6 separate regions of the Homo sapiens genome follow, and regions 2, 3, 4, 5 and 6 are each reported to be linked to region 1. The links are microRNA targets in miRTarBase. Many come from high-throughput screens and were not tested one by one. Region 1 holds a microRNA gene; each other region holds the end of a gene's coding sequence.
What was found. The annotated mature microRNA hsa-miR-190a-3p reads CUAUAUAUCAAACAUAUUCCU and lies in region 1 at 3,319-3,339, opposite strand. An mRNA with a match to its seed (bases 2 to 7 or 8) in the 3' UTR can be bound and repressed. Matches are read on the target gene's strand: a 7mer-m8 pairs with bases 2 to 8, a 7mer-A1 pairs with bases 2 to 7 and ends in A, and an 8mer does both.

Region 1 (5,204 bases):
TCTCTTGACCTCCTCCTCAATATCCTTACCAACATCCCCCACTGCCCCCGCTCCTCCTCAACGTCCTTACCCACTTCCCCTGCTCACTGTCCTTGTCAGGTCCTGGGCAAGTGTTGGGCAGGGGAAGAGAATGTCCTCCCATGGTCTTTTTCTTGGCCTTTTCTTATGCCCTGCAACCCCACAGCTCCTTCCGCCAATGAACTTGAAGGTGAAGGAGCATAAGGCATGCATAGGAGATGGCCAAAGGGCTTGCCTCCCTCCCTGAAAACTTACTTTGAGGGAATGCTTTGTTGAGAGCTAAAAACACAATGGTCGCCCTTCTCACAACTGGCTCCACAAACTGAAGAACCACCCGTGTCATCTTTCCAGTGGGGTCTCAGGCTTTGCTCTGTGTTACTCAGAGTCTTGCAGAATGCCTGCTACTAAAAATAAGGTCATAGTGCATCAGAAACTTTAAAAAAACCCTCTTGGATATATATTTTTTAAAGTGTGAACATTTTGCATTTAATTTAAATGTCCTTGAGGGAAAAAAGGAGGCCAGTGTCTAGAACTCCCACAACAGGAGTGAGGCATTTTCCTGCCAGTTGGAAGCCGGAGTGGAGCAGGCAGCCACATTTCTCTTTTTTTTTTGTTGTTGCAAGTTTGGCTGCTACTAGTTTGCTTCTGGTATTGAACTGAGAGGTGCCTTGAGGGAGGCCTTAGCCTGTATGCAAAGCCCCAAACTGTGCAAAGGTTAGATCAGCTTCTCCTCTGGAGGACCCATGGATGGGGTGGCTTCAGGACTGCCACCTTTATTAGTTCAAACAAAAGGTACACCTCCCAGAACAACTGGAACTGCTAAGAGCCAGGCATGGACAGCTGGCCTTGTCTCAGGGAAAGCTCCAGAGAGACCTTAAACAGGCAAAATGGGTGGCAGAGAAACTGCCAAATGGCTGTGCCTGTGACTGGGGAGGGACCACACCCTCCGCATCCGAGGAATACGCGCGAGTTCATGCAGTGTCTGCTGGAAAAGGTCCGCACCTGCATGATTAGTATCTTGGGAGTAGTTTTCCCATAGTATCCATTGCTTTACTTTTGTGTTCAAAATGGAAAGCAACGCCACTGAAATAATCTTTTAATCACTATTTCTGTTTAAGGGGCCCTTGAATGTCGATATAGAAAGCACAGACAAAAGATAACAGGGTTCTTCCCAAGCTGTATCAGATAAACTCCCTACATCTTAAGCCCCCTTTCTGTGTCTGTGAAGGATCTGACAAGGACCTACTGGTCTACCCTGGAGGGGAGTCTCCCATACTTGCTTTTCTTATTTATTTATGTTTTTGAGACCGAGTCTCACTCTGTCACCCAGGCTGGAGTGCAGTGGCACGATCCCGGCTCACGGCAACCTCCGCCTCCCAAGTTCAATCGATTCTCAGCCTCCTGAGTAGCTGGGACTACAGGCGTGCACCACCATGCCTGACTTATTATATATATATATAAATATATATATATATAATATATTTATATATATTATATATTATAATATATATTATAATATAATATATAATATATATTATAATATATAATATATTATATAATATATAATTATAATTATATTTAATATATATAAAAATATATTTTTATATATATTTATATTTATATATATATTGTATTTTTAGTAGAGACTGGGTGAAACCCAGCTGTTGGTCAGGCTGGTCTCGAACTCCTGACCTCAAATGATCCGCCCACCTTGGCCTCCCAAACTGCTGGGATTACAGGTGTGAGCCACCATGCCCGGCCCCATACTTGCTTTTCACACCCTGTATGCTCCTGGTCTGGAACCAATGAGTGCCACTCAAAGCCCAAGTGCAGCCATACAGAAAATGCTGTATTTGTCCTCCTCCTTCCTGAACAGTTGGTTCCTTTTTCCCTTCACCATATTAATCACTACAGAGAACATGCTGGTCAGTGACAAAGTCACCCAAAGAAACAAGAAAATCACATCAATTCAAACAACTGGGCTTCGTCTGCAGGTCCTTTTGAAACCATGTTTTTCTTTGTTCGTAATAACTTGCTGTCTCTTTTCCATGGCCATTTGCCATTTCAGTCAAACAATGTAACTGGACTCAAAACCAAAGCCGGTGTTCTCTAGCTGTGTGAAGGAGGGACTGATTGGGGCAGCATCTTGAAACCCGCCTGACAGAGCACCTGCCAACACACACAGATCGCTTCTCAATGGAGAAGGATTCCAGAGACAGGATCCATTATGTAACTCCAGAAGCCAGGACTCCAACATTACAGGACCCTCTCCTGTGTCATCACCTCTCTGATGTTGCTGTTGGTGACCCTGTCACTATGCATTCACCTGTAAGCAATGTGGCAATGACTTCTAGACACAGTAAGGGGAAGCTTTCATGACTACCTGTTTAAACCATTTGCTTACACCTTTTCTCCTCCAAAACATTGAGAACAGTAGTTCTCTTTCCAGAAAGCAGTGCTCACAAAGTATTTTGTTTGTTGAGAGAACTCAGAATGAACTCACACATACTTCACAGGCTTTTCTATAAGGAAGAGGTCAAAACCAACCAAAGAAGGCTGTTATGTACCAGAAAAAATGTTTTCTATATCATAATCCCAAACTTCCTGCCACAGTCAATTAGGCTATGATATTACTTTCCGATTGTTGGCTTATTCTAAATATTACCAACCTCCACTGACAAGTTAACCTATAACAGGAAATTCAAGAGTTCAGTCAACATTATATTACCTTCATGAGATATATTTAGTCCTATATCCAAGGTTTGTACAAAGCTCACTGACTCAGTATCCATGCAGCTGGTATGGAGGATTTGCTTTATACATTCTGTTACTGTGAGTGGAAAGGGAAGTCATAGAAAACTGATCTGTGCTCCTTGAATTTTTGCTGAAACCCTGACATGAACTTCTAAATTGAAGATCAGGATAAAAATGAACCAAAATGAAACATGAATCTAGATGTGTTTGAGGCTATAATCCTGACCTTTATTCTGTGTCACAGACATGGGTTGGAACCGTTTTTTCCACCAAGCATATTGAATTCCTTAAGGATTCATCACTGCACAAAACTAAGCCACACAGAATACCCCAGGCTCTTATGAAACATCAACACTTATTGTTTCTATAATAAGCAAGTAATCCAGTAATACTGATACAGGTCTCAAATGCTATAAGAAGAAATGGAAGATAACATGAATTGTAATGAGTGCTCCATCTTCTAAATCTACTTGTGATTTTAACGTGTTCTTTCCTGTTGCCTTATAAACTTTATTAGGAACCCCCGGAGACAGGGCAAGACACTGTAGGAATATGTTTGATATATAGTTGGATTAAATAACAACCTAATATATCAAACATATCACACAGAGGCCTGCAGAAAAGGCATCCAGGTTTGACTGAGCTCGAGACTAGGCACAGTATTGAAGGTTACGGCTGCAGGGGGTGGTCACTTTTGCAGCAACTCCGATAACTGTCTTTGGAGCACAAGTCTGCCTGCAGATGTGGAAACGGCGCCATTAACAATACTGTCAGCACATGCACCAGCGCTCACTGACATTCTCATCTCCCCAGGTGAACAGCAGATTCAACGGTGCATGTCTGGGAGATCCCAGGCAAAAAGTGATGCTTAAGTTTTAAGAGCCTGAGGTGGAAATGTACCAGAATCATCATCAAAGACCATGAGCCATTCTCCTTTAAAAACAGGCAACCTGAGACGGTGGTGAGCAGAGCATTTTAGACAAAATTACTGTCTCTCCCCAAACTCTTCCTGAAAGCAGTGTGAATACTCCCCAGAAGGAACACACATCCATTTTATACTGAAGGCATGTGTGTGTACCAGGGTAGGGTTATAGGGATGTAATAAGCAATTGTTTACTGACAGTACCCTGAGGATTTTTTTAAGGTTTTGGGAGAGAATGGAGAGAAGTGATTCAACTCAAAAGACTGGCTGATTTTGGTGCAGATTGTTGTTATTGTTTTTTAATTGGGGAAATAAATTCCTTTATAAAGGCAAGGAAGATATTTCATGCAAAAGTTATTGCAATGTGCCCTATTAGGCACAAAAACTATGGTTTGGGTTGCAGGTTTTCCAAAACAGTTTCATAGATAATATCCACCTCTGGCCATCAGGCAGAGAAAGACTTCAGACCATTGTGAAGCATTCTAGAAGTACCCATCACCCTTCCTAATACGATGGGAGTGAGCTAAGGTAGGAACCCTCAAACAAAGGATTCACATCATCAGTTATGTTAACCTTGACCTTGGCCGAAGGACTCCTTGGCTTTCCTGTAAAAACCCTCAATGTAAACACAAAGGCTATATGATCCTAGAGTACTGTAGGGAGTCCTCACAGGCCTACTTCAGCAGTCATTAATTTTTAAGGTGCTGTTATTTTTTAAACCTTTGTTTTATAAAATGTTAAAACACAGACCCTTCCATCATCCCAATTCCATCATCATTCTTGTACATTCCCTACTTATTTTCTTCATCTGTGAGTTTTTAGAGTTGTAATCATAATAAGTACATAATTCTGCATCCTTTCTGTTATACCATGAGCATTTTCTTCGTGCTACACAGTCCTAGCAACCATTATTTTTCATAGCTGCATAATATTATAGCTGCATAATATTCCTTCGAGGAGTAGCTCTAAGGGCACACATAAACTACAAATGGCCTTTGTGGGACTAGACAAGCCTTCTCTGACAATGGGGTGGGAAACAGGGGCTGGTATGGACTGAAACTGCCACCCAGGGCCATACATAGCCCTCCCAGCTGAGTGACAGTGGTCGGACCCTGGCAAGGTAATTCGCCTCTTGGTGCTTCTGATTCTAATGGACTTTTTCCAAGGATCAGATGAGTGACTCCCATAAAGTACCCAGAAGACTGCCTGGCACAGGCTTGGCAGCTGAACAACGCGAGCTTCCTGGTTTTCTTTCTTCAGGGGCCAGTGGAATAATTTTTATTTCAGGCATTTCCTAGGGAGTAAGTCCCAGACACACATTTTCAGTGATGATGGTGATAATAATGGTGATATAGTTACTATCTACCAAGTCTCACTGTATGTCAGGCAGTGTTCTTATACTATCTTATTTAATTATTATAACAATAATCCTATGGGGTAGGAACTTTAATAATTTTGTTTTCCCATCTGGAGTCGTGAAGTGAACGACCAGACACGGGGAAACCAGGAC
Region 2 (5,204 bases), not on the chromosome of region 1:
AATGGTCTGCTAAGTCGATTGCTAAGACAAAATCAAGATAGTTACCTGGCAGATGATTCAGACAGGAGTCACAGAAATAATGAAATGGCACTTCTAGAATCAAAGAATCTTTGCATGGTCCCTAAGAAAAGGAAGCTTTATACTGAGCCATTAGAAAATCCATTTAAAAAGATGAAAAACAACATTGTTGATGCTGCAAACAATCACAGTGCCCCAGAAGTACTGTATGGGTCCTTGCTTAACCAGGAAGAGCTGAAATTTAGCAGAAATGATCTTGAATTTAAATATCCTGCTGGTCATGGCTCAGCCAGCGAAAGTGAACACAGGAGTTGGGCCAGAGAGAGCAAAAGCTTTAATGTTCTGAAACAGCTGCTTCTCTCAGAAAACTGTGTGCGAGATTTGTCCCCGCACAGAAGTAACTCTGTGGCTGACAGTAAAAAGAAAGGACACAAAAATAATGTGACCAACAGCAAACCTGAATTTAGCATTTCTTCTTTAAATGGACTGATGTACAGTTCCACTCAGCCCAGCAGTTGCATGGATAACAGGACATTTTCATACCCAGGTGTAGTAAAAACTCCTGTGAGTCCTACTTTCCCTGAGCACTTGGGCTGTGCAGGGTCTAGACCAGAATCTGGGCTTTTGAATGGGTGTTCCATGCCCAGTGAGAAAGGACCCATTAAGTGGGTTATCACTGATGCGGAGAAGAATGAGTATGAAAAAGACTCTCCAAGATTGACCAAAACCAACCCAATACTATATTACATGCTTCAAAAAGGAGGCAATTCTGTTACCAGTCGAGAAACACAAGACAAGGACATTTGGAGGGAGGCTTCATCTGCTGAAAGTGTCTCACAGGTCACAGCCAAAGAAGAGTTACTTCCTACTGCAGAAACGAAAGCTTCTTTCTTTAATTTAAGAAGCCCTTACAATAGCCATATGGGAAATAATGCTTCTCGCCCACACAGCGCAAATGGAGAAGTTTATGGACTTCTGGGAAGCGTGCTAACGATAAAGAAAGAATCAGAATAAAATGTACCTGCCATCCAGTTTTGGATCTTTTTAAAACTAATGAGTATGAACTTGAGATCTGTATAAATAAGAGCATGATTTGAAAAAAAGCATGGTATAATTGAAACTTTTTTCATTTTGAAAAGTATTGGTTACTGGTGATGTTGAAATATGCATACTAATTTTTGCTTAACATTAGATGTCATGAGGAAACTACTGAACTAGCAATTGGTTGTTTAACACTTCTGTATGCATCAGATAACAACTGTGAGTAGCCTATGAATGAAATTCTTTTATAAATATTAGGCATAAATTAAAATGTAAAACTCCATTCATAGTGGATTAATGCATTTTGCTGCCTTTATTAGGGTACTTTATTTTGCTTTTCAGAAGTCAGCCTACATAACACATTTTTAAAGTCTAAACTGTTAAACAACTCTTTAAAGGATAATTATCCAATAAAAAAAAACCTAGTGCTGATTCACAGCTTATTATCCAATTCAAAAATAAATTAGAAAAATATATGCTTACATTTTTCACTTTTGCTAAAAAGAAAAAAAAAAGGTGTTTATTTTTAACTCTTGGAAGAGGTTTTGTGGTTCCCAATGTGTCTGTCCCACCCTGATCCTTTTCAATATATATTTCTTTAAACCTTGTGCTACTTAGTAAAAATTGATTACAATTGAGGGAAGTTTGATAGATCCTTTAAAAAAAAGGCAGATTTCCATTTTTTGTATTTTAACTACTTTACTAAATTAATACTCCTCCTTTTACAGAATTAGAAAAGTTAACATTTATCTTTAGGTGGTTTCCTGAAAAGTTGAATATTTAAGAAATTGTTTTTAACAGAAGCAAAATGGCTTTTCTTTGGACAGTTTTCACCATCTCTTGTAAAAGTTAATTCTCACCATTCCTGTGGTACCTGCGAGTGTTATGACCAGGATTCCTTAAACCTGAACTCAGACCACTTGCATTAGAACCATCTGGAGCACTTGTTTTAAAATGCAGATTCATAGGCAGCATCTCAGATCTACAGAACAAGAATCTCTGCTAAGTGGACCTGGAATCTTCCATCTGCATCTTAACATGCTCTCTAGGTGTTTCTTGTGTTTGAGAACCATGACTTATGACTTTCCTCAGAACATGAGACTGTAAAACAAAAACAAAAAACTATGTGATGCCTCTATTTTCCCCAATACAGTCACACATCAGCTCAAAATTTGCAATATTGTAGTTCATATATTACCGTTATGTCTTTGGAAATCGGGTTCAGAACACTTTTTATGACAAAAATTGGGTGGAGGGGATAACTTTCATATCTGGCTCAACATCTCAGGAAAATCTGTGATTATTTGTGTGTTCTAATGAGTAACATCTACTTAGTTAGCCTTAGGGATGGAAAAACAGGGCCACTTACCAAACTCAGGTGATTCCAGGATGGTTTGGAAACTTCTCCTGAATGCATCCTTAACCTTTATTAAAACCATTGTCCTAAGAACAATGCCAACAAAGCTTACAACATTTAGTTTAAACCCAAGAAGGGCACTAAACTCAGATTGACTAAATAAAAAGTACAAAGGGCACATATACGTGACAGAATTGTACACAATCACTCCATTGGATCTTTTACTTTAAAGTAGTGATGAAAAGTACATGTTGATACTGTCTTAGAAGAAATTAATATATTAGTGAAGCCACATGGGGTTTCAGTTGCGAAACAGGTCTGTTTTTATGTTCAGTTTGTACAATCCACAATTCATTCACCAGATATTTTGTTCTTAATTGTGAACCAGGTTAGCAAATGACCTATCAAAAATTATTCTATAATCACTACTAGTTAGGATATTGATTTAAAATTGTTCTACTTGAAGTGGTTTCTAAGATTTTTATATTAAAAATAGGTGTGATTTCCTAATATGATCTAAAACCCTAAATGGTTATTTTTCCTCAGAATGATTTGTAAATAGCTACTGGAAATATTATACAGTAATAGGAGTGGGTATTATGCAACATCATGGAGAAGTGAAGGCATAGGCTTATTCTGACATAAAATTCCACTGGCCAGTTGAATATATTCTATTCCATGTCCATACTATGACAATCTTATTGTCAACACTATATAAATAAGCTTTTAAACAAGTCATTTTTCTTGATCGTTGTGGAAGGTTTGGAGCCTTAGAGGTATGTCAGAAAAAATATGTTGGTATTCTCCCTTGGGTAGGGGGAAATGACCTTTTTACAAGAGAGTGAAATTTAGGTCAGGGAAAAGACCAAGGGCCAGCATTGCTACTTTTGTGTGTGTGTGTGTGGGTTTTGTTTTGTTTTTTTGGTTGGCTGGTTGTTTTCGTTGTTGTTAACAAAGGAATGAGAATATGTAATACTTAAATAAACATGACCACGAAGAATGCTGTTCTGATTTACTAGAGAATGTTCCCAATTTGAATTTAGGGTGATTTTAAAGAACAGTGAGAAAGGGCATACATCCACAGATTCACTTTGTTTATGCATATGTAGATACAAGGATGCACATATACACATTTTCAAGGACTATTTTAGATATCTAGACAATTTCTTCTAATAAAGTCATTTGTGAAAGGGTACTACAGCTTATTGACATCAGTAAGGTAGCATTCATTACCTGTTTATTCTCTGCTGCATCTTACAGAAGAGTAAACTGGTGAGAGTATATATTTTATATATATATATATATATATATATATAATATGTATATATATATATATTGACTTGTTACATGAAGATGTTAAAATCGGTTTTTAAAGGTGATGTAAATAGTGATTTCCTTAATGAAAAATACATATTTTGTATTGTTCTAATGCAACAGAAAAGCCTTTTAATCTCTTTGGTTCCTGTATATTCCATGTATAAGTGTAAATATAATCAGACAGGTTTAAAAGTTGTGCATGTATGTATACAGTTGCAAGTCTGGACAAATGTATAGAATAAACCTTTTATTTAAGTTGTGATTACCTGCTGCATGAAAAGTGCATGGGGGACCCTGTGCATCTGTGCATTTGGCAAAATGTCTTAACAAATCAGATCAGATGTTCATCCTAACATGACAGTATTCCATTTCTGGACATGACGTCTGTGGTTTAAGCTTTGTGAAAGAATGTGCTTTGATTCGAAGGGTCTTAAAGAATTTTTTTAATCGTCAACCACTTTTAAACATAAAGAATTCACACAACTACTTTCATGAATTTTTTAATCCCATTGCAAACATTATTCCAAGAGTATCCCAGTATTAGCAATACTGGAATATAGGCACATTACCATTCATAGTAAGAATTCTGGTGTTTACACAACCAAATTTGATGCGATCTGCTCAGTAATATAATTTGCCATTTTTATTAGAAATTTAATTTCTTCATGTGATGTCATGAAACTGTACATACTGCAGTGTGAATTTTTTTGTTTTGTTTTTTAATCTTTTAGTGTTTACTTCCTGCAGTGAATTTGAATAAATGAGAAAAAATGCATTGTCTCTGGTTTGAAATGACTGTTATTTTGTGGGCTTTCTCTGGTTTTTAGGTTTTCCATAAACGTAAAACACATTGCTATGAATATAACAGTGATCTTCAAGGATGTTTTGCCCTTCTTAGAAAAATAAAGGGGACAAAAAAGAAGGTGGCTGGCAAGTTAGTGCACTAGAAACAGGGTAATTAAGGCATAACTCAAAGTGACAATCAGCCTATGGCCTTTCTCCCATGATTCAGTGTGTAACTAGTTGATCACTGTAAATTTTTAAACTAGAAAATAGTTTGTGCAGTATTCAAAATTAATGTTGACTATATGTATATACATACACACTTCATTTTAGGATAAGACTTTATCAGAAGGCTTTTATCCAGTTTTTAATGGGTGTGGTTTATTTTAAATAAAAGAAAAAGGAGTTTAATAATTTTCCAAAAATGAATGTGTATGTATATACACGTGTTTACATGTTTAAATATATGCTGTATGTGTATAGGTAATGAGTAATTGATAAGCAACATACATACTCAATAAGTATTAGAGACCAGTGGATTCCAAGAAAAAAAAAAAAACTTTGTACCCAGGTAAACTTAACAGCTTAGGAATTTTTATTTTTACAAATAATGATAATTTATGAGAAAGACATTTTCCCAAAGAGGAATTCTGTTTCCTGGGACCCAGATAGGTCTATTGTAATCCAT
Region 3 (5,204 bases), not on the chromosome of region 1:
ATGACGCTAATGCTGTTCTTAAATTATATAATACAAAAAAAAGCACTACTGGAATAAGGAAAATTCTTCTATATACAGCTGCATCCTTATAGGTACTTAGTGTTTAAGTAAATGCAAGAAGCTGGTTAACAATATGTGGGCATCTGAAGGAAATTAATGTGAAATAGACTTTTCACTCTTAAATCTTTTTTGAGCTGGGTAAAGTATGCTAGTATTACCTATTTAAAAAGCAAATAAATACATATTTTTCCCAACTCCCAATTAAATATAAATGAACATACCTTTTGACCCAGCAATTTACTTCCAGGAAATTATACCACAGATATATGTAAACATACAAACTTATTCATCACAACATTTTTTTCCAAGCAAGAGGTTAAAAAGTTAAAAGTCCATCAAGTAGTAAACTGGTGAAATAAGCTATATATGTTTGCCCAATGGAATAATATGAAACCATAAAGAAAGAACATAAACTAATAATGTACTGATCTGGAATAACCTCTATGACATAATTTGAATGGAAAGATGCAGAAAGGAGTATATATTATGCTAATATTATACAGATAAGGAAGAAATATATGTATATGTTAGCATACATATGCATAAGCTATCCTGGAATACAAAATGATTGATATCATTGGTTGTCTCTGAGAAGGGAAAAGGATGCCAGGCATCAGGGTTAAAGAAAGAATTTTTATCCTATACACTTTTTTGTACCTTTTGAGTTATGTGACTATGTTACCTAGTAAATATTTTTCAAAAACTAGTTGGTAGATATCTTTCCATTTAAGGAAACAGTTATCTAATTTTTAAATGACTGAATGATAGTGCCTTGTATGGATTTACATACATATTGATGAACTCTTTGAATGTTTCCAGTTTTTCACTATTGTAAATATCCTGGTGGTAAGTATACTTGAATATATTTTTAGACATACGCACAAGTATTTTTTAGCAGAAAATTATTAGACTTATTATGGTAAAAAACAAAAATTAAATGTTGATTGTTATAGCTATATTAAGGTCATCTTTTGTTGTTATTGCTACTTGTAACAGCTTATTGGATGTCAGGATGTTTTAGAGGTCTCTGACAGTTCCAGATTTTAGCTGTCCAAAACACTTTTTCTTCCCCTAGTTTTCAGTTCTAGAATTCTCCTTTCTTGTGGAGAATCTAATTAGTATGTTTTGGGAGGGGCTAATTCTGCCTTACCCAGTTCCAGAGATGGGCATGTGACTCAGGCCTGGCCAGGGTATGCCATCCATGAAGCTTTAATGATTTGTTTGTATTTGGATTTGTGACCCAGGCTGAGCCAATGAAAATCATCCCTAATGTATTTTACAGTAACAGTTGGGATAGACAGTGTGTTTTCCTCTGAGGTTCCTGAGATTCTTGTACATGAACCTGGAATGATTAGTGACCATCCATATTACCTGGATATGAGACAAAATTTTTAGAAAGTATTGGTAAGAGATAGATGATAGATAGATAGATAGATAGATAAATAGATAGAGTGAGCTAGATTAGATAGACAGAAAACTAGATAATGCCTTGATGACACAGTTTGAGTCCTGAATGAGTTGTGCCAGGAGACACATGCACAACATATATATATATTTTTTGTTGTTGTTGTTGTTGAAAACCTCATTCTTTCTGGTCATATATAGTATAGATATGTTCCCCAGTGTGCTGCTTGTCTTTATTTTTGGTTATTTTTGCTCGACAGACATTTAAAAATTTTTTACATGGTAAATTTGTTCATCTTTTCTTTGAGGTTTCATTACCCGCTTTTAAAAAAATCTAAATCTGATTTTTTAAAGACCATAGCTATTTATTTTTATATTTCAACTTAGACCTTTAGGCCTAAAATTGGAAATTAATCTTTGTTGTGGTGTGAGGCAGATAATCCCATTTTTAAAAAAAGTAATACATTATATAAATGTATTACACATATGTATTACACAAATGTATGCACACATACACATGTTGAAATGATTGCCTCTGACTTTCATTGGTTGATGGTGTAGCCGAGTACCCCATTTTTAAAAGGAAAAAAATGATTTTTTTTTCTTTTTCCTTTTCCCCCGCTTCCTACTTAGCTCTTTAGGAATGCAATTATAACCTTTACCTTCTCTCCATCAGGTATGGCAAGCTTATCTATGTGTTTACTTAGAAGTTGCAGAGACCAAAACTTGAAGCAAATCAGGCCCCTCTGGAACTCTCACCCACTAAGAGATTGCCTCAATTTACAACGTAGCTGCCTGCCATGGCGCCAGCCAGACCACATGATAGATAAGACATCTGAAGCAAGTCACACAGACCCCGCACCTCCTCCCCTCCTCCCCATCCCCCCTTTAAAAGCCCTTGCCTTCTGCCCTGAAGGCTGAAGTGGTATCTCAGGGCAGGAGCCTGTACTACTTCCCCTCGGGTAGCTCTTGAATTAAGTCACTTTTTTTTTCCCACCAGACCTTGCTCTTGTTATTCAGACTCTGCAAGCAGTGGATGACTGAACCTGAGTTACAGAGGCATTACAAGGAGGATTTTGTTTTCTTCTTAGGTTTAGTTGTATTTTCTAATATTTCTATAATAAATATGTCTTACTTTCATTAAAAAATACTGTAAGTTACTTTTTTTGGAAGATCTATAAGAGATCACTCAGATTCAAGGTTTATACTAAGCATGAAGAGATTGGGTTCTAAGTATATTTCATATTTGTCTAAGTATCTAGGTATATTTAGTTTTGAAACGTCCCTCAGAATTTGTCATTTCCCTTGAAAGCTATTCTTTTTTATTTCCTATTTCATTGAGAAATTACTCAGTTAAACCAAAACCCAACATGTTTTGAATAAATAAATAAACATATTTCTTCCCCAAGAAATATTTCAGGAACAAGGGTGAGTATTAATAAACTATATGCCACAGGGAGTTAGTATTATTTTCTTCATCTTGTTTTCTAATTATGAGTATATTACATTTTAATGAATTAATTTATCATACTATAAATATCCCTTTCTGCATGCATGTGTAATATGGTAGTTACTTCTCTCATTATAAATAATTTTATTCTTATGCTGGAGAATATAGTGTATACTTATCAAGCAAAGTAAAGTTTACCTGATTCTGCTGAAAAATGAAACAGAGTCTCAAGGAAAAGCGTGTAAGCATTGCAATTTATTGAAATCAATAGAAAAATTATTCTGCCTGATTTATCTTTATTTAAATGATATCACTAAAAGATACACACAAACATGACAATGTATATTTTCTGACATTAATGATGATAGCTGTGTAAATCATTTCATATCACTAAATTTAGCAATGATATTTGAGATTTAAGTGAACTGTGTGTAAAGATATGTGAAACAATTCTATGCCATTCTAAAGTTGTTTGTATATCAAAATGCCCTTTTATCTTTCTCTTACCAAACGTTAATTCTTAAAGTAAGTTTTACTATATGTATATGCTGCTTTGCAATGTTATTTTGTAAGCTGTATTTTATTTTTGTGTCAGGCTATCACTGTAGGCCTTGGTAGATGCTGGTGCTAGCCTATGGAATCAGACTAATGTCCAGTTGCTCAGCTTTAGGACATGAAGTTCAAGGTAACAATTAAAGACTGTACCAGTTCTCTAAGAACCTGGGACATTAATTTAAACAAACAAATGGGGATAGAATTAATCTTTTATTCCCCAAAACAACCTACAATTGAGATGGAAGGTGCTGGTCAGATTTCCACAGAAATGCACAAGCATTGAGCACTTGGATGTGTGACATTGAAGCTCTATGCAGCACATACCCCACTGATGACTCTGCAATGCTATCTCATCACTTAGTATGGATGCATGAAAAGACCAGTTGTAAGACATAACCCATTTTGCAAAGGATTCCAACATTTTTCCTTTTATAGTAAACAGGCTCTGAAAGAAATTTTCTAGAGCTTTATTCAAATCTAAAGGCTTTACTAATCCTCCTTGAGTAATTATTCTGCAACAATTCCCAAACAATCACAAACTTTCATAAGGAGCTAGAATTACAAAGATAATTCGTATGAGAAGACACTTATGTCTTCCAAACAGAACCTCTACTTTCAAAGAGATGAATTACTATATGCAGATATATATGCAGTAAAAGCCAGTAAAGTTTATATATATATATGAATATATATATATAAATATATATATATATAAATATATATATATATATATATATACACACACATACGATAAATCATTGTACTATAATTCTTTTGACAACTCCACATCTAGAGCTATTCTTCTACTAGGACTACCATCTAAAACAAAACTGCTTTCCTTTATTCTTCTATAGCAAGAAGGAGAACAGACATAAAACATAACTGGAAGCTGTGATGCTCCAAAAATATCACAGGATCGGATGACACGAAAACCTTCACCAAACTTGGGACCATGACACCATTCACACCTGGATGTGCTGAAATGGAGGAAACAGCAAGTCAATATTTAATAAATTTTTACTAAAGACTCTGTGCTATGCAAGACTCCAAATAGTATAAAATACTGCCCTTACCTTCATTGAGCTTACCAGCTAGGTGAGTGCTACCCATTAAGTGAAAGACTAAACGCTAAAAAAGCTGAACAATAAAGTAGGTATATGTATAATACAATCCTAGCTTTTTAAAACAGAAAGGTATATATGCATAACAAGAAAAAACTCTAATGATAGATCCCAAATTGAAAATAGTTATTATTCTTGGGAAATGTGATCACAGGGGTTTTATGTTTCTTTATAATGTGTTTCTTTATTTTCTAATTTTTTATAATAAACATGTTATTTTTTATGATACAAAATAAATATATCATTTAAAAAAATAAAGGTACTATCATAACCTAGTATGGAATTAGAGTCCATAATGTATTTTTAAATGGTTAGAAATCAGTTAAAAAATATTAATCCATTAGTACATTAACATTAGTACAGGAATAGACTATTCACAGAAGAAGAAAAAATGAATGTCAAGAGAACACAGGTAAAGCTTTTCAATCTCCCTAGTAATCGGGGAATACAAAACAAAATAGCAAAGAAATACCATTTCACAATCATCAGATTATAAGAATATGTTTAAGTATTTAAACAAACTATAAAACCACTGGAAGAAAACACAGTGGAAATGTTTCAGGACATTGACCTAGGCAAAGATTTTATGGCTAAGACTTGAAAAGCATAAGCAA
Region 4 (5,204 bases), not on the chromosome of region 1:
ACACATGCACCCTCACAGCCGCCTTAATCCTCAACCGTTCCTGCAGAATTTCCACGACCCCTTAACCAGAGGGCAAAGTTACAGTCACGAAGAACCAAAGTTCCATCACAAGCCTCCTCTTCCGCACCTGGCTCTGCACCTGCCGCACTCCGCTGTGGGCGCCCGGTCCAGCTGTCCTGGCGACTACCCCTCTCCTCCAAGTTCAGCACACTCTAAGGCACCACACCTAGGGAGGTCCTTGGTGGCCACGAGAATAGACAGCATCTCTGACTCTCGACTTTATGACAGTTCTCCTTCACGACAAAGAAAGCCTTATTCCCGCCAGGAAGGCCTGGGAAGCTGGGAGAGGCCAGGCTATGGGATCGACGCCTATGGGTACCGGCAGACTTATTCCTTGCCCGATAACTCCACACAGCCGTGTTATGAGCAGTTCACCTTCCAGAGCCTCCCTGAGCAACAGGAGCCAGCCTGGCGGATCCCATACTGTGGAATGCCGCAAGATCCCCCGAGGTATCAAGACAACCGAGAAAAGATTTATATCAATTTGTGCAACATCTTCCCCCCTGACCTTGTGAGAATTGTCATGAAAAGGAATCCTCACATGACAGACGCCCAGCAGCTCGCCGCAGCCATTTTAGTGGAGAAATCCCAGCTGGGTTATTGAAAGATGATGCATCTTTGTGGTGTTTAGTAGTTTTTTGTTCAGCTCAAATGCTGAGGGAGGTTTGCTACAATAGCACATGTGATCTCCTTCTCAGCAAGGAGGTTATATAGTATCCATTTATGTGAAATACTGTATCATGGAATCTGTATGTATAGCCCCACATGGTGGAAGTATCACGGGATTGCTTTACATTTAAACTTTTTTTTTTTAACATTTCCTTTTTAAAGCTATATCCTTGGCTGGAAATTTTTCCAGTTTGATTTAATAGATGTATCTGTGATCTTTGATATTAATCTTTGGTGCATCAGGGGTTTATATGCAGCACTTTTTATCCTTGTTTTGTGTTTTATTAACTTGGTGTTTGTCTATCAATTGCAAGCAATTACAATACCTTCAGAATGTGGGACATTTGACTAGACCTAGCAAACTGTTTTTTCGAGCCAAGCTTAGTTAGACTCTTTTACAGCTTTTTAAGTTATTTTTATTTGGGGAAAGTGGGCTTCTTTGTGCTATAATCATTATTTATAGAAACAAAGTTATACTACAGCACTGACTTTATATTTTAAACAGAATGTAAGTTACCAGTTTTATGTTGAAATGTGTTACAGTATATATATATTAGAATGATTTACAATATGGCACTTTTCGATGTGTTATTTTTGTTTGGATTTTTTTTTCTGTTAAGAAATTAGTTAATTTAATATGGTCAATTTAAAAGAAAGCAGATGCAATCAATGGAAAAATGTTTCCATTTTTTAAAAATGAATAAGGCAAAAGCTGTAACTGTTACAGGTTAGAGCTTTGTTATCCAGCTATGATGTGCTTCTTGACAGTAGAAGTGGAATTGAATTCCTAGATTTCCATTAACCTGTATTTTTAATATGTCTGTCTTTTTGTTTTGGGGCACAACAATACTGGATAAAATAACCCTTTCACAGCACTTGCCTGTTTTTAATGAATCTAATTATTCACAATGCAACTTTTATATTTAACATACTCTTTAGCTTTCCTGCTATTTATCAAGGCTGGCCTGAGGTGGGTTTATGTGTTGAGGTTATGCAACATTTCTTGATACTGCACTATAGAGAAATGGTGATGGAGGAGTTGTAAATGGTAACTTAAAATTTTTGTAAGATATTGTATATTTTCCATTTTCCTGAAGGTAGTTTTCTTGGGGGGGCCTGTTATATTATTAAGGCCAGACTCTTGCCACAAATAGTGTAGTTTTAGATACAGACTAAGGTCTGTTCTAGTATTAGTAAGGGATATTTCTGGTTTCAAAGTCATGGGTTTTGCTAGTGGTGAATACATTTCTGCGGAGTAGAAGATAGATTTTGCAGTCAGTGGCAGACAGTTGTGTGATTGACATCACTTGACTGTTGCGTCCAGGTTTTGAATTGTACTTCACGTAACAGATGCATTCAGATCTTTTTCTGTAGTCTGCTTAGATGCCCTGGCTATTCTGATTATCCTACATGCTACAGTTTGAAGTGAAGCCCTGAAAAACCAGAAAGTACCTTTTACTGTTGATACAAATTGTATCTTTTTAACTATAAGAACTATTTTGATTTGTAGATCTAGTTAAAACACAAGTATGTAACTATGATTAGACTTTTGGGCAACATTTTATCCCTTATTTAAATACAAATTTTTAAAGTAAAATTGAGGTCTAGAATAGATTAGAAAATAAAAATAACAATTTAGATAAATAGAAATGTCTGTCTTAGTTTTATATAATATATTAAAACACAGTAAATAAATTTATTGGCATTTTCTTTCTCCTAAAACTTACCTAGTGTGAACTTAAAATAAAGGTAAAATGCTGCCTGAAAATAATGTCCAAGCACCTTTGACTAGGATAACATTTTCACTACTTGTGTGACACTGTGTGTTGCACGAAGTAGGATTTGGGTATACAGTAAATGCTTCTAAAAGGCATTGTGCATATTGACATAACCAATAATCTGAACCGTGTTCAGCAAACTTAATTCAGGAAAGTGGTATTCTACACAATTATTGCTGTTGTGTTTGAAATGAGTGTGGCACTCATCTGTATCCAGAAATAATATGGGTGAGGCCACACAACCCATTCTGAGTGGTGTCTGTCTGAAAGCAACCCTACTCGCATGTGAAATTGTTCTCCTTGATTTGGTCACTATAAAGCAAGTTTAAATGTAGAGGCTAACTCAGTGCCAAAAACAGGGTTACAAATGTGTAGTATCTTTTATTTTAGTCATATTCTAAGACTTCTTTTTAGTATGAAATCACTTTTAAATTATACATGTAGGTTTTGCTTCCATTTTCTTCATTTTACCATTTTAATTATTTGAACATTCGCCAAATTTTACATTTATTTAAATGAGATCTTAGGTGAGATGTGTGTGACACTTTGAATTTGACCTTCTTGTGTTATTAGCTGACTATTTGTCATTGCCTCATGGATTTTAAATTATGGGAAAATAGTGTAGCCAGCTGCCACCTCTACTGAAGTGAGTAGCTCTGAACTACCCACACTAAATCCTTCAGTGTAATTAATTATGAGTTTAAAAATAGCAGTTTTCTTATGTGAAGAGGACAGTTTGTCCCCTTTTTTTGAAGCACCGATGTTGCGTTCAGAGCTGTAGAATGAGATAATTGGCAGACTTTAGGTACAGCAAATTCTTACTTATCTAAAGCAATAAGTCAAAGGAGTCCATCATTAAATTAAATCCATAGCTGATCACAAGCCTTCATTTTAGCCAAAACTTTCTCTCTAACCAAATCTTTTACCAGACTTGCTAATAAATAACCAGAGAGATGTGTTAATAAGTGAAGTTGCCAGAAATGGTCAACTGATCGGAAAAAAAAGGATTCAGACTGGAGTATTTTGCCCCTGAATAATTGACAGTTGACTGTGCTTTACACAGTAACTAGCCAGTCTGTTGTCTCTGTGTCTTAGTCCAGAGGGAATAGTACCCAATTGGCCAAATACTGGCCCTTAGTATCTCCTCCTTTCTTGCATGGGATACAGACGTTTTCAGTCTTGTTTTTATGATCTCTCTCTATATCCTGATAAGAGTTTGTCATTGACTTACACATTTGGAAGAAATGCACACCAGTGTAATATATTTGATACTGGTGGAAACTTGAACTTTGTGTTTTTATGAAAATTCATTTATGAGAATATGTAATATAACTGAAGAGTATTTTATGTATATCTATATACACAAATATGTATTTGTTATGAGGTATTAAAAACAGGGGTTGGGGGGAGTGCTTCTGATGGCTAACTTTTCTCTAATTAAACTATGTTTCTTTGAGTTGTGAACGACCGAGTCTGGGGTCTGGACGGCCAATGATAAGATTTAGAACCACTTGGATGGAAAGCAGTTCTTCACTGGTTTTATTCTTGGTATTTTCAAAGAATTATTTTGATATTTTTAATAGAATGTGTAATTTTAAAATACACAAAAAACTTAAAGTAGTATTGATTATACAAATAATTATTTAACATGTCTTATGGATGTATCTATATGTATATAGACAGTAATATATTTATAAAACAAATATACTTTGCTTATGTTATAGCTCTTAGTTTGTGACAGGTGGGAGGATGGCTCTGGGTGTGTGTGTGTGTGTGTGTGTGTGTGTGTGTGTGTGTGTGTTTTGAAAACTCTCAAGCTGTTTTCCCTCTGATTTACAATGGTATTTACTTTAAAGTATGTTTGGTTTTCATTATTCTTTTTGCTCTCCAACTTCCTTATTCAAGATAAAATAAGACATACAGTTTTCTGGCCATTCTGTTGGTGTGTGGTGCACCCATTTTATTGTCATCTAACTCCTGGAGAATTCCCACGTGACCTGAAATCAAACAGATTCTGGCTGGACATATGCTTATGTTCCAAATATATTAAAGATGTTAATTCAGCTAACAGTTAAGTTTCCAAGGTATACACCAACAAATAAAATGAGGTATTAAAAAGAGATGGATTACACACATGCATTAGAATAAGAGAAAACAGTAGTGTTAATAAAAGTAAAGAAACATACACTATCTTAGCCCCCTAGGGCAGGGGTTGACTTTTTCTGTAAAGGATCAGATAGTAAATAATACAGGAATCATATGGACTTCAAATGCCATTGTAAAAACTACTCAGCTCTGCCTTTAGAGCATAAGAACAGCCACAGATAACATGTAAATTAGTGTGGCTGTGTTCCAATAAAACTTTATTTACAGAAACGGGAAGCCGGTCAGATTGGGCCTGTGGGCCATAATTTGCTGATCTCAAGCAGTAAATCCTGGTATATGTTAATAGAAGAAATCATAATTGCATTTCAGTTGACATTAAAAGAAAATCTGGTAGTTTTTGATGTCCTTCAAAAGAGGATTGTTAGACATTGATGTTAAAGCATCTTAATTCATTTGAGTTTTCTTACCTGTTTACACCCATTATTTATTAGAGATATTTCTTGTGTTTAACCACAAAAAAAAGCACTCTGTTAAAATGTTTTAATATGTATTGAATTTCTTTCATAAACTTTTCATTTCTGTTGATAAATG
Region 5 (5,204 bases), not on the chromosome of region 1:
ATTAGAGTGATTGTCATTCTCTGGGAAATGAAATTATGTGGGTAGGAAAAGACTTTGGCAGACATACTAACTTGGCTATATGAGACTAACAGCAGTTGAAATCCTCCATCCATTCTGTTTTATTTATGAGTCTTCAGGAATTTCATCTTATCGGATAATCGATGCATCAAAACTGCCCTTTGGTGACTGTTAATATTTATTTTTATCTGAGGCATACTTCAGGGTTAGAACCCAACAATTTCCCTTAAGAAGGCCTCCATGGGACTGGGTCTTTAAGTTAATTCACACATCAAGTCTGATAGTTAAATAAAAACTACATTGCTAAATTTGGGAGTTTTTAAATATAGCTTTATTATCTGTTCTGAGATTTTTGAAAACTCTGTTCAAATCATAGGAATGAATAGAATGCTTCCAATGAGAGAACGTTCCAAAACAGAGGAAGACATTCTACGGGCAGCACTTAAGTATAGCAACAAGAAGACTGGAAGTAATCCTACATCAGCCTCTGATGATTCCAATGGGCTGGAGTGGGAAAATGATTTTGTTAGTGCCGAAATGGATGATAATGGAAATTCCGAGTATTCTGGATTTGTAAATCCTGTATTAGAACTGTCTGATTCTGGCATAAGGCATTCTGACACAGATCAACAGACTCGATAGGGTAAAATTGTGTGACCTTGTTTATCAGTTATGACCAAATGTTAAAAACCAACTAGAATGTATAAGTGATTGTGCTTAGCCTTTTTGTAAGGGAGATGTGTAAGAAACCATGTTGTAAATGCTTATTTTATTACAAAGGAGTAGGGATGATAGGATCTGAATTGATACAGAATTAAGTGCAATTTCATCATCTGCCTTCTGCTTTTCAAGACCAATTTAATGGTCCTGTCATGTTACTGATTAAATTTACTTTGTCTTGTCTTTATAGCATTTCTGTTTACTATGGTAGATTTCCACTTTCAATTTTTAAAATTAATTTTACTTTGAATGATTTATGAAGCCTATTTCATTGTCTAACTATGAAAATATTAAGACTTTTTTGTTAATTCTCAGCCGATGTGAAGGAAGCATGAGGAGGGATCGTCAGATTCAGATTTAGAATAGTGTTCCCGTTTCCAGCATTATTTATTTCTATGACTTCTTTGGATTTTATTATCTAATAGTAAGTACAGTTGATGTGGGTAGATGACTCTAAGAAATGCTGAAGTATCGGCATTACATGTGTTTATTTACATGTCCTAGTATGATAATGTTGATTCAATCTGAACAAAAGATAATATAAAAATAACCCTTCAGAGTTTGGACATTTCAAGTTGGTAATAATAAAAAATAATATTTAAGAAGATATATATATATATATATTTAGTTTTTTCCACTTCATTTTACATGCCACTATATTGACTTTAATTGATATACAGTATTAAGTTTTTAGGTGCCATTATTTTTAAAAAATTCTATATTTCCAATGAACGATGTTAGATTTTACACAGAACATATTCTCTGCATGATTTCAGAAAAGAAAATCTAAAAAGGTAATACGGGTATTTCAAATAAAATCCTTTCTGGTATGAAAGGCTCCATTGATTTTATTAAGCCTTCCTTTACCTTGTAGTACAAGGTGCTTTAATGGGATAGAACTAAGCATATCAATATCTATAACTGCATTTTGTGCTAGACAATTACTGTTCTTTTCTCTAAAATGTATATGTCAATTTACAAGGCCAGGGATAGAAAACACTCCATAATTGCTTTCCTTGATTTTGCTGAGGATTTGGTATGATTTTAGTAAGCAAACTGTTTTTTGGTTTTTCCTTAATGTTTTTAATTTTTTTTCCTCTTGCAACAATGACGGTGCATGTTCTTATAAATATAGGAAGGTCCAGATATAAATAGTAACCTAAAGTTCTTGCTGTGCTTAAAAAAAAAAATCATGTGGCCCTTTCAATATTTGAACTGCTAAGCAATGACATCTGTAGTTTTATCTCCTTTTTTATGTCATAGAAATTAATATGATACTTTAAATATGTAAATATAATACATTAGGTAATGCTATTATTTATATCTGTCTTAACATAATTTAAGTTGTAGCTGTGTCTTGGAAATATTTTTAAGGTAATCTATATTCACATTGCCTGTGTTAATGCTTTTTAAAGTTTGTATACATCAGATGTATATTTTTGGTTTGGCATAAGCTACGATTGTAATTTTTCTTGGCTTTTTGTTCATAAAGAATTTTTTGAAGGAATGGTAACAAATGGTAATTTACAAATGGTTGTGAATAAACACATTTTTACACTTAAAGGTAATAAGTTATTTGACTATTATTGGTTTTACTCCATAAACATGCAGGTATTCTGATTCCTGACTTGTAATTATTTTATTAAATCTGATGTGAAGACAAAAGTAAATTAAGAAAGCAAGATGGAACTAGAAAATGTGTTTTAACTGTTAAAAAAAAGTTAACGTTTTGTTTTGTGTTTATAAAAAGTACTAGAAATAACTTATTCAGCAAATATTGGAATAGTATTTAATATTATTGGAACTGTGTCTGGTGGGTGTTAGGGACATAGAAGTACAAAGACATATAAGGTCTCTGCTCTTTGCTTACCATTCTGGTGAGAGAGAGAGACAATAATAAGTAAACATACATGCAAGAAAATCACAGGTCACAGTTAGAAAATATACAAGATTATAGGAGAGAGAGTAACTGGGGGCCAATTGACTACTTCTCATAGGTCAGGACAATCCTCTCTGAGGAGATAGCTTGGCTAAAACTTAATTGTTTTAAGTTTTAGTTGTTAACTTGTTAATTGTTTACTTGGCTAAAACCTAATTGTTAAGCAGGAAACAGTCAAGTAAAACCTGGTATGAAGCATGTTATAAGCAAAGGGAACGGCAAGTACAAAGTACCTGAGGTGGGAAAGAGTTTGTTATGTTCTGTGAATAAAAAGACCACTGGGAATGAAGCATCATGAGTGAGGGGGAAGAGTGGTATGAGATGATACTGGAGTGGTAGTTAAGGGCCAGATGATGCAAGACCTTGTAGACCAAGAATGAGTTTTATTTGATGTGTAATAGAAAGCCACTGAAATTTTTTGTAAGCAAGGATGTACAGTCATCATATACACATTTTCAAACGATTGCTTTAGTTGCTGTGTAGAGAATGGATTGTAAGAAGGCAAGAGTGGATATATAGCACTCCCAATGGAATATAGTGTGCCTTGGGTTTACAATGGCTGTGAAAAGGCAGAGCAGATTTGTTTTAGAGGTAGAATCATCAGGATTTTCTGATGGGTTGGATATAAGACTAAAGGAAGGGGTAGAATCAGATACTACTGTAGGGGTAACACATCTGGCATGGTGCCGTGGCTACCTTGCTCACTGCACATAGTCCACGTAGGCAAAACTCAACCACAGTCTGACACAGGTCTTGGTAGAAAACATCGTGATCCTCTCTGGATCCTCCATGGCAAGATAGGCCATCGTAAAGGAGCTGTCAAAGGGCCATTTATCTTGCAAAATACCTCCCTGTCTTGCAAAAGGCTGCCGTGAGGCAATTTCTCATCCAGCTGGTTTCCAGTGACCTCACTCTCATTCAGGTGCAGATACCGACTATAAAAATGTTTAGCTATAGTTTAGAGTTGGCTCCTCAACAGAGCTATTTCTACTTGTCATCTGTCATCTTGTCCCCTTGGTTCAGTGTCATCCAGGGATGTCCCTAAGGACCAGGTATACAGGGAGCTGACTCCATCCTGATACTGCTTTTGCTGTCTGTGTAAATAATAAACTGTCTCAATCTATTTGGACTCATTGTCTCCCTACTGGCCAAATCTATAGATGTCTGACAGCCAGCCTAGTAGCTGCAAGTGCCCTTAACTATAACTTCTTGGTTCTGATTTGACTTCAGTGTAATGGGAGGAACAGGTTTGGGAAAGTGGGGAAAATGAAAGAGTTCTATTTGAAAAGTTAACTTTGAGGTGTTCATAAGATATTTGGATGAAGATGTCAAGTAGGTGATGGGATATATGTCTGCAGCCCAAGAAAGAGGTCTAGGTTCAAGTTTGGGAGTCATTAGTAGGAAAATGGTATTTTAAGTCATTAAACCAGCTGAGTTCACCCCAGGGGAGCACATAGGCAGAAAAGCCCCACTAAGTGTTGACATTTAGAAGTTGGGGGTAGTGAAACAGTCGTCAAAAGAAACAGATACAGGAGGAATGCAGGAACCAGAGAATAGTGTCACAGGAGCCAGGAAATAAGAGGGCTCAACAATAGCAAATGCTTTGAAAAGAGGTCCGCTGCTTTAGTTGCATTTGGAGACAGTTACACAAATGAAGGGATGGAAACTGGGGAGTTGGGGATGAAGAATAAAGAACAGCTAATGCAGACAATTTGAAAAGAGAGCAGAGAAATGGGGTAGCTGGAAGGGGATGTGGAGTTATAGAAGGGTTTTTATTTAAAAGATACTAGCTTTAGAGTAGATAGGCAGATATGAACAGGGCAGGACAGCGCCACAAAGACTGTGAGGGCTGGTGACAGGGAAGGGAAAATCTAACAGGAGACATCTTGAGCTCATGGGCAACAACTTCCCAATAAGAATTTAAGATGGCAGAGTTTGGCCTTCCTCTGGGGGCATGACCAGACATGCGCAGTAAGGGGCAAAATGACAGAGTTTGACAAATATATGACCTTCCCATGGGGCTTGGCCGGGAGTGCTAGCCCAGTAAGGGAAAATTGCCCTAAGAGAGCATGTGCATAACTTCAATCACCAAAAGGCCCTTCCAGATACTGGCAAACCACTGCACATACAGGGAGGGAAGAGATGGGGAAAAAAATAGGAAATAATAAATCTCTAAGAGCCCTAAGACAAAGGTCAAGCTGGGTACTCAATCTTTTGACGTCCCCCTTCGTTCCATCCAAGTGTACTTTTTTTTGCTTCAATAAACTCTTGTTTCTGCCTTAAATATAATTCTGTCTCTTGGCTGAATTCTTTCTCCCAAGAAGACAAAGATCAAGGACTATGGAGCGTGCCCATACTCACCACTGGTAACACTAGAACTTTTGAAATGATATATTTTGGAATTATGCCCGCTTTTTTTTCAATAGATAAATATATTTTTCTAGCAGAGGCCAGAGGTTTCGTTTAACTATGTAAACATGTCCTAATCATAATTTCTTGAGAATACAGACATCTAAAAAAGATTTTA
Region 6 (5,198 bases), not on the chromosome of region 1:
CAACACATTCAAGAAGTATTATCATTGATTTTGCTTTTTGAAATGTTTAAATATTGAAACATCCAAAATACTAATGTGGATAAAATACAACAAACTTGCTTTGTACCCACCATGTGTTTGGTTTCTATCACTTTCCCAAGCTGCAGTTCCAATGTGCAATGCTAGCAATACCACCGGCAGAGGTGAGCCAGCTGGCCAAATTGGGCCTCCCAGGAATGATCTGGTAGATGAGAACACCACAAGCCAGAGCCTGGCAGTTTTGCACATCCAGCAACACCATTCCAGATACTGCAGGCCTCAGGGTCTGACGTACACTGGACTTCGAAAAAGCTGATGTATCACGTCATATTGTAGTCTTTTAACGGTGAGGCAAGGCCGGACGCAGTGGCTCACGCCTGTAATCCCAGCACTTTGGGAGGCCGAGGCAGGTGGATCAGGAGGTCAGGAGTTCAGGACCAGCCTGGCCAAAATGGTGAAACCCCATCTCTATTAAAAATACAAAAATTAGCTGGGCGTGTTGGCAGGCGCTTGTAATCCCAGCTACTTGGGAGGCTGAGGCAGAGGTTGCAGTGAGCCGAAATAGTGCCACTGCACTCCAGCCTGGGCGATAGAGTGAGACTCCGTCTCAAAACAAACAAGCAAACAACAACAACAAAAAAACACAGAGGCAAGAACTGCCACTGGGACTGTGTATTTGAAGCTCCAAATATGGCCTTTCCTGCCACTAATTTGAAAAGCCTAATTTCAATAGCGATGGTAGAAAGAGCCAAGGAAAATAGTTACAATACTGGTGAGCTGTGGCATCTAATTATGTCACCAAAGTATGATGTGAATGTCTCCAATTCTCCAGCCCTCCAGATCACCCTTTTCTTTTACCTATCTAACATAAATCTGACCCTCTCACTGTAGGTCTAGTCTTTATGGTAATGTATAATAATGTAAGAAGTCCTAGAAGTGTTTATATTCCAGAAACATATATCCTGGTTGTTACTAGTCACAATCTGGCCTTGAGACCAGTGTTTGGATTACCCCAGCCACCTAGGTACCATCTGGCCCCAGTATGGACACAGTCCCTCCCTGAATCATCCAAAACACAGCTCACATTGGGCTGTAGTTCTTGACAAAGACTTAATGAATGTGAGGCTAACAGAAGGGAATTAACAATGTAGGAAAAATAACAGTGGCTCACGCATTTCAGTGTTCTTAGAACCTGTGACATCCCTTCACAGGAGTTTATAACCAGGACCTTTCTCCTTAGGCCCCACCCTGCTGCTAGGAGGCAGGGACTTGCTCATTTCCTCCAGAGGGGTGTCCCCACAATGCTGCCCACCCCCAGTGAGATCTACAGCTCCAATTATCTTCTCTCCAACTTCCAACAGAAATGAAACTGATCAGTCTCACAATTAACTCTGCATCCTCTCCCCACCCTGTACCTGGCTTTAGGCTCTGACCCATGGGGCATTTCTGCCAGCTTTGATAGTTTATCTATTTAGCTCCCAGGTTAAAATCCAGACCTTTCTTCTGGATGCAATAATTACATCAGTCTTGAAATAAGCCATCCCTAATCATGGACCCAAACAGTGTTCAAATGTGGCCATAGCTCACTCTGCTGAACATCTGCTAATTCTGATTTTTTTCCTAGTAACCAACAATGCAATGAATATCTGGAAAGCTAAATCTCACACATGCATGACATCCTTTCAAACTTCTGCTGGCACTCATCCAGGACTGAACTAAATACCAGGTTCTCCCCAACTTCATCCCTTCTATATGGTGAGAGAAACAAGGAAATAAATGTAAACTGCAACAGTGTTAAAGGCAAAGTAATAAACTGTGCTTCCAGGGAAAAGCCTCCCAAAGAATTGGCAATTATGCTGAGATCTGATGAGTCATTAGTGCTAGTGAGGCAAAGAAGGAAGAAACTGTGTGTGTTTGCAGCAAAAAGAACAGCAATTTAAAAAGTCCGGGGCTGGAAGGTGCAGGAATTGGAAGAGCAGCCTAGCTAAACCAGGAATTAAGGAGGAGCTCAAACTGACAGGAGGCGAGAGCACAACCTTTCAGGATTTTGTAAGCCATGTTCATTAGTCTGATTTGTATTCTAGGAATAAGAGGATGACAGTGAATGATCTGTGCACATTTTGAAAATCTGATACTTGCTGGAAAGGCTATATTCTGTTTTACATTCCCCTACAGTTTCACCAACACTAAATATCATCTTAAGAATATGGTAGTTTTAACTACTGGATACTACCTTTTTTCATCTTTATTACCCATTTCCTATTGGAGTGCTTTTTTTTTTTTTTTACTGGATACAAATTATTTTTTACTGGAATGAATTTAAGACTTCATTTATTACCTTTTCTATCTTTTGTGCTCTAATTATTTGCCTTTAAATTACTTATGTCAAAACATTATATACTCAGCAATCTTTAAAGATTCTGCCATAAAAGTGTTCTCTCACTCCAATGTTATATATTCACCCACATTTTCTTAGTATTTCCACGATTTGATTGTTCATATTCAATCATGTCTTGAAATTTATAAATAGAAATCTAACTTTACTTTTCAAACGCTTAACTAAGCAGTCATCCCTGATAATGTCACTTTTATCATTGTAAGTAAACAAATCAGAAAATAATTTATTGATGTTTTCTTAATCTTCTACTGTTATCTAATCATATATAAATATATATAAATATATAAATTATATATATAAATATATAAATATATATAAATAAATTATATATATAAATATATATAAATATATAAATTATATAAAAATATATAAATTATATATATAAATTATATAAATATATAAATTATATATATAAATTATATAAATATATAAATTATATATATAAATTATATATAAATATATAAATTATATATATATATTATATATAAATTATATATAAAAATTATATATAAATATATAAATATATAAATTATATATAAATATATAAATATATAAATTATATATAAATATATAAATTATATAATATATAAATATATAAATTATATATAAATATATAAATATATAAATTATATATAAATATATATAAATTATATAATATATATTTATATATTTTTATATTTATATATATAATTGTATAATATATATTTATATATAATTATATATTTTTATATTTATATTTACATATAAATATATATAATTATATAATATATATTATATATTTATATTTATATGTAAATATATAAATATAATATATAATTATATATAATATATAAATTATATATAAATATATACAAATTATATATATAAATATATATTATAATTATATATAATTATATAAAAATATACAAATTTTTATATAATCATATATAAATCATATATATAATCATATATATATAATCATATATAAATCATATATATAATCATATATATATAATCATATATATATATTTTTTCCCCTGGGCCACTACCACATTCATAATTTTATAATGTATTTCATGTGATATAAAGTTCTCCCACACATATTTGTTTTATTTAGCTATCCCATAAGAAACTTACTGCCTTCTCATGATACATTAAATTGGCTTTCACAGGGATTTTTAAATAAACTAATGAGGTTTCAATCTAACTAGGAGATATCCATCTGGAATGGAAAGAGGTGTAAATGACCTTTAAGACTTCAGCAACCCTTCCAAACAACTACTAAAATTTACATAAATGTTTGCATGTAATGGGTGAAGAGTTTGAACAAATATCCCATAAAACTGTTTACCATAATTGACTTTTTATTTAAAAAATTACACGGAGCAATTTCCAGCTTATCTTTTTTTATAAAAGTACTGCCTATATCAAACATTTTATATCACGTTAATTCCATTGAAGAGCTGCCTTTTTCTGTTAAGGTACTGATTCCAATTGATGGGATACATGCCCTTAATACAGAAAGTTTCCATTATTTATTCAAATATCAAAATTAAGATTATTGAGAAGTTTATTGCTTTATGGCTGGGCAAGATGCTACTAGCACATTTTAGGTAAATAATATTCTTTATTAAAAACTATGAGGTCATTCTGTTTAAAACTTTCAAGATAATTCACGGAAAACAGATATATCTATTCAAATTAAACATTAAAGGGCCAGGCTACTAGCTATAGACATTTATATGTGAAGCAGCTCTTTTTTTTTTTTTTCTGAGACCGAGTCTCACTCTGTCGCCCAGGGTGGAGTGCAGTGGCCCAATCTCAGCTCACTGCAACCTCCGCCTCCTGGGTTCAGGCAATTCTCCTGCCTGAGCCCCCCAAGTAGCTGGGATTACAGGCGCGTGACACCACACCCGGCTAATTTTTTTGTATTTTTAGTTAAGATGGGGTTTCGCCATGTTTGCCAGGCTGGTCTCGAACTCCTGACCTCAAGTAACCCACCCGCCTCGGCCTCCCAAAGTGCTGGGATTACAGACGTGAGCCATGGCGCCCGGCCAATGAAGCAGCTCTTTAAAGAAATAAGACATGAAAATAGGTCTGTCCTGGTATACTACACATAATTGAAATGAGTAACACCTGGAAGACCAATATTGTTACGCTATGTTCTGTTAGGATCTTTAAAAAAAAAAAAAAAAAACTCAGATATTTAGTAGTCCATTCGTGCTTAAAATATTCATATGCATGAGAAGCCTAAAGAAAAAAAACACCTCTGTACATGATGATCAAAAGAAAGTTATAAATTTTTTTGAAATTGCACTGTTATTTAAACCACTTTCCTGAAGTCAGACCCTCCTTGTAGCTGGCACAGTTTTTCAGGTCAATTGGCAACCTGGGGAGGCCCCTCTGGTATTAGTGAAGTAAAGAAGGTGGTGATGAAAGACCAAGCTGAAGCCATTAATCCAGGCCTTTGAATTGCACTGGCATCTTCACCTCCATCTTCTCCACTCTCATCTTCAAGCCCATCATCCATAAGACGCTCCTTTCAAGCAAAACAAGAAAGATACTCCTGAGTGATATGAACGAGCATTAGCTCATAATAGAATACAGTTAAATTCTTTGTAGAACAAAGGACTATGAAGTGGTATGTATGTGGTCATTAGAAATCTTTAAGGCCAAAATTGATAAATTCCTCACTGTTCCGTAAAGGGGACAACTGCCAATGCAATACAATAAATTCTTACCATGTGTATAATTTTATTTCTAGGCTATTTTCAAGAAAAAAAAAGTTACTTCTTCCCATTTA

Region 2: miRTarBase lists NRIP1 as a target of hsa-miR-190a-3p. Seed matches in the 3' UTR shown: 7mer-m8 at 1,646-1,652, 7mer-A1 at 3,128-3,134, 7mer-m8 at 3,706-3,712, 7mer-m8 at 3,708-3,714, 7mer-m8 at 3,710-3,716, 7mer-m8 at 3,712-3,718 and 11 more.
Region 3: miRTarBase lists LRRC63 as a target of hsa-miR-190a-3p. Seed matches in the 3' UTR shown: 7mer-m8 at 4,200-4,206, 7mer-m8 at 4,198-4,204, 7mer-m8 at 4,196-4,202, 7mer-m8 at 4,194-4,200, 7mer-m8 at 4,192-4,198, 7mer-m8 at 4,190-4,196 and 14 more.
Region 4: the mRNA of ZC3H12C is a reported target of hsa-miR-190a-3p. Seed matches in the 3' UTR shown: 7mer-m8 at 1,274-1,280, 7mer-m8 at 1,276-1,282 and 7mer-A1 at 2,395-2,401.
Region 5: the mRNA of AP1AR is a reported target of hsa-miR-190a-3p. Seed matches in the 3' UTR shown: 7mer-m8 at 1,345-1,351, 7mer-m8 at 1,347-1,353, 7mer-m8 at 1,349-1,355, 7mer-m8 at 1,351-1,357, 7mer-m8 at 1,353-1,359, 7mer-m8 at 1,355-1,361 and 1 more.
Region 6: the mRNA of HERPUD2 is a reported target of hsa-miR-190a-3p. The part of its 3' UTR that is shown has no 7-base or 8-base seed match.

Annotation. Positions count from the first base shown.
Region 1 is chr15:62,822,143-62,827,346 of GRCh38, reverse strand. It overlaps MIR190A (microRNA 190a), which reads right to left and starts at 3,390; the gene lies at 3,306-3,390. All of the region lies in intron 54 of TLN2 (talin 2), which reads right to left.
Region 2 is chr21:14,960,544-14,965,747 of GRCh38, reverse strand. It overlaps NRIP1 (nuclear receptor interacting protein 1), which reads left to right. Exons shown (of 4, transcript NM_003489.4): 4 at 1-4,513. The coding sequence ends at 1,032. Among named protein-coding and RNA genes, the nearest start is that of ASMER1, 44 kb to the right of the region's middle.
Region 3 is chr13:46,275,832-46,281,035 of GRCh38, reverse strand. It overlaps LRRC63 (leucine rich repeat containing 63), which reads right to left. Exons shown (of 10, transcript NM_001282460.2): 10 at 3,921-4,446. The coding sequence ends at 4,233. It overlaps LOC105370194 (a long non-coding RNA gene), which reads left to right. Exons shown (of 3, transcript XR_941946.4): 3 at 4,324-5,204. LOC124903170 (a long non-coding RNA gene) reads left to right here and starts at 1,195. Exons shown (of 2, transcript XR_007063785.1): 1 at 1,195-1,250; 2 at 2,141-2,612.
Region 4 is chr11:110,165,074-110,170,277 of GRCh38, forward strand. It overlaps ZC3H12C (zinc finger CCCH-type containing 12C), which reads left to right. Exons shown (of 6, transcript NM_033390.2): 6 at 1-5,204. The coding sequence ends at 664. Among named protein-coding and RNA genes, the nearest start is that of ZC3H12C, 74 kb to the left of the region's middle.
Region 5 is chr4:112,267,750-112,272,953 of GRCh38, forward strand. It overlaps AP1AR (adaptor related protein complex 1 associated regulatory protein), which reads left to right. Exons shown (of 10, transcript NM_018569.6): 10 at 395-5,204. The coding sequence ends at 660. Among named protein-coding and RNA genes, the nearest start is that of TIFA, 16 kb to the right of the region's middle. RefSeq lists an enhancer at 3,630-3,749.
Region 6 is chr7:35,628,918-35,634,115 of GRCh38, forward strand. It overlaps HERPUD2 (HERPUD family member 2), which reads right to left. Exons shown (of 9, transcript NM_022373.5): 9 at 3,742-4,934. The coding sequence ends at 4,773. LOC101928421 (a long non-coding RNA gene) reads right to left here and starts at 2,708. Exons shown (of 5, transcript XR_007060285.1): 1 at 1-2,708.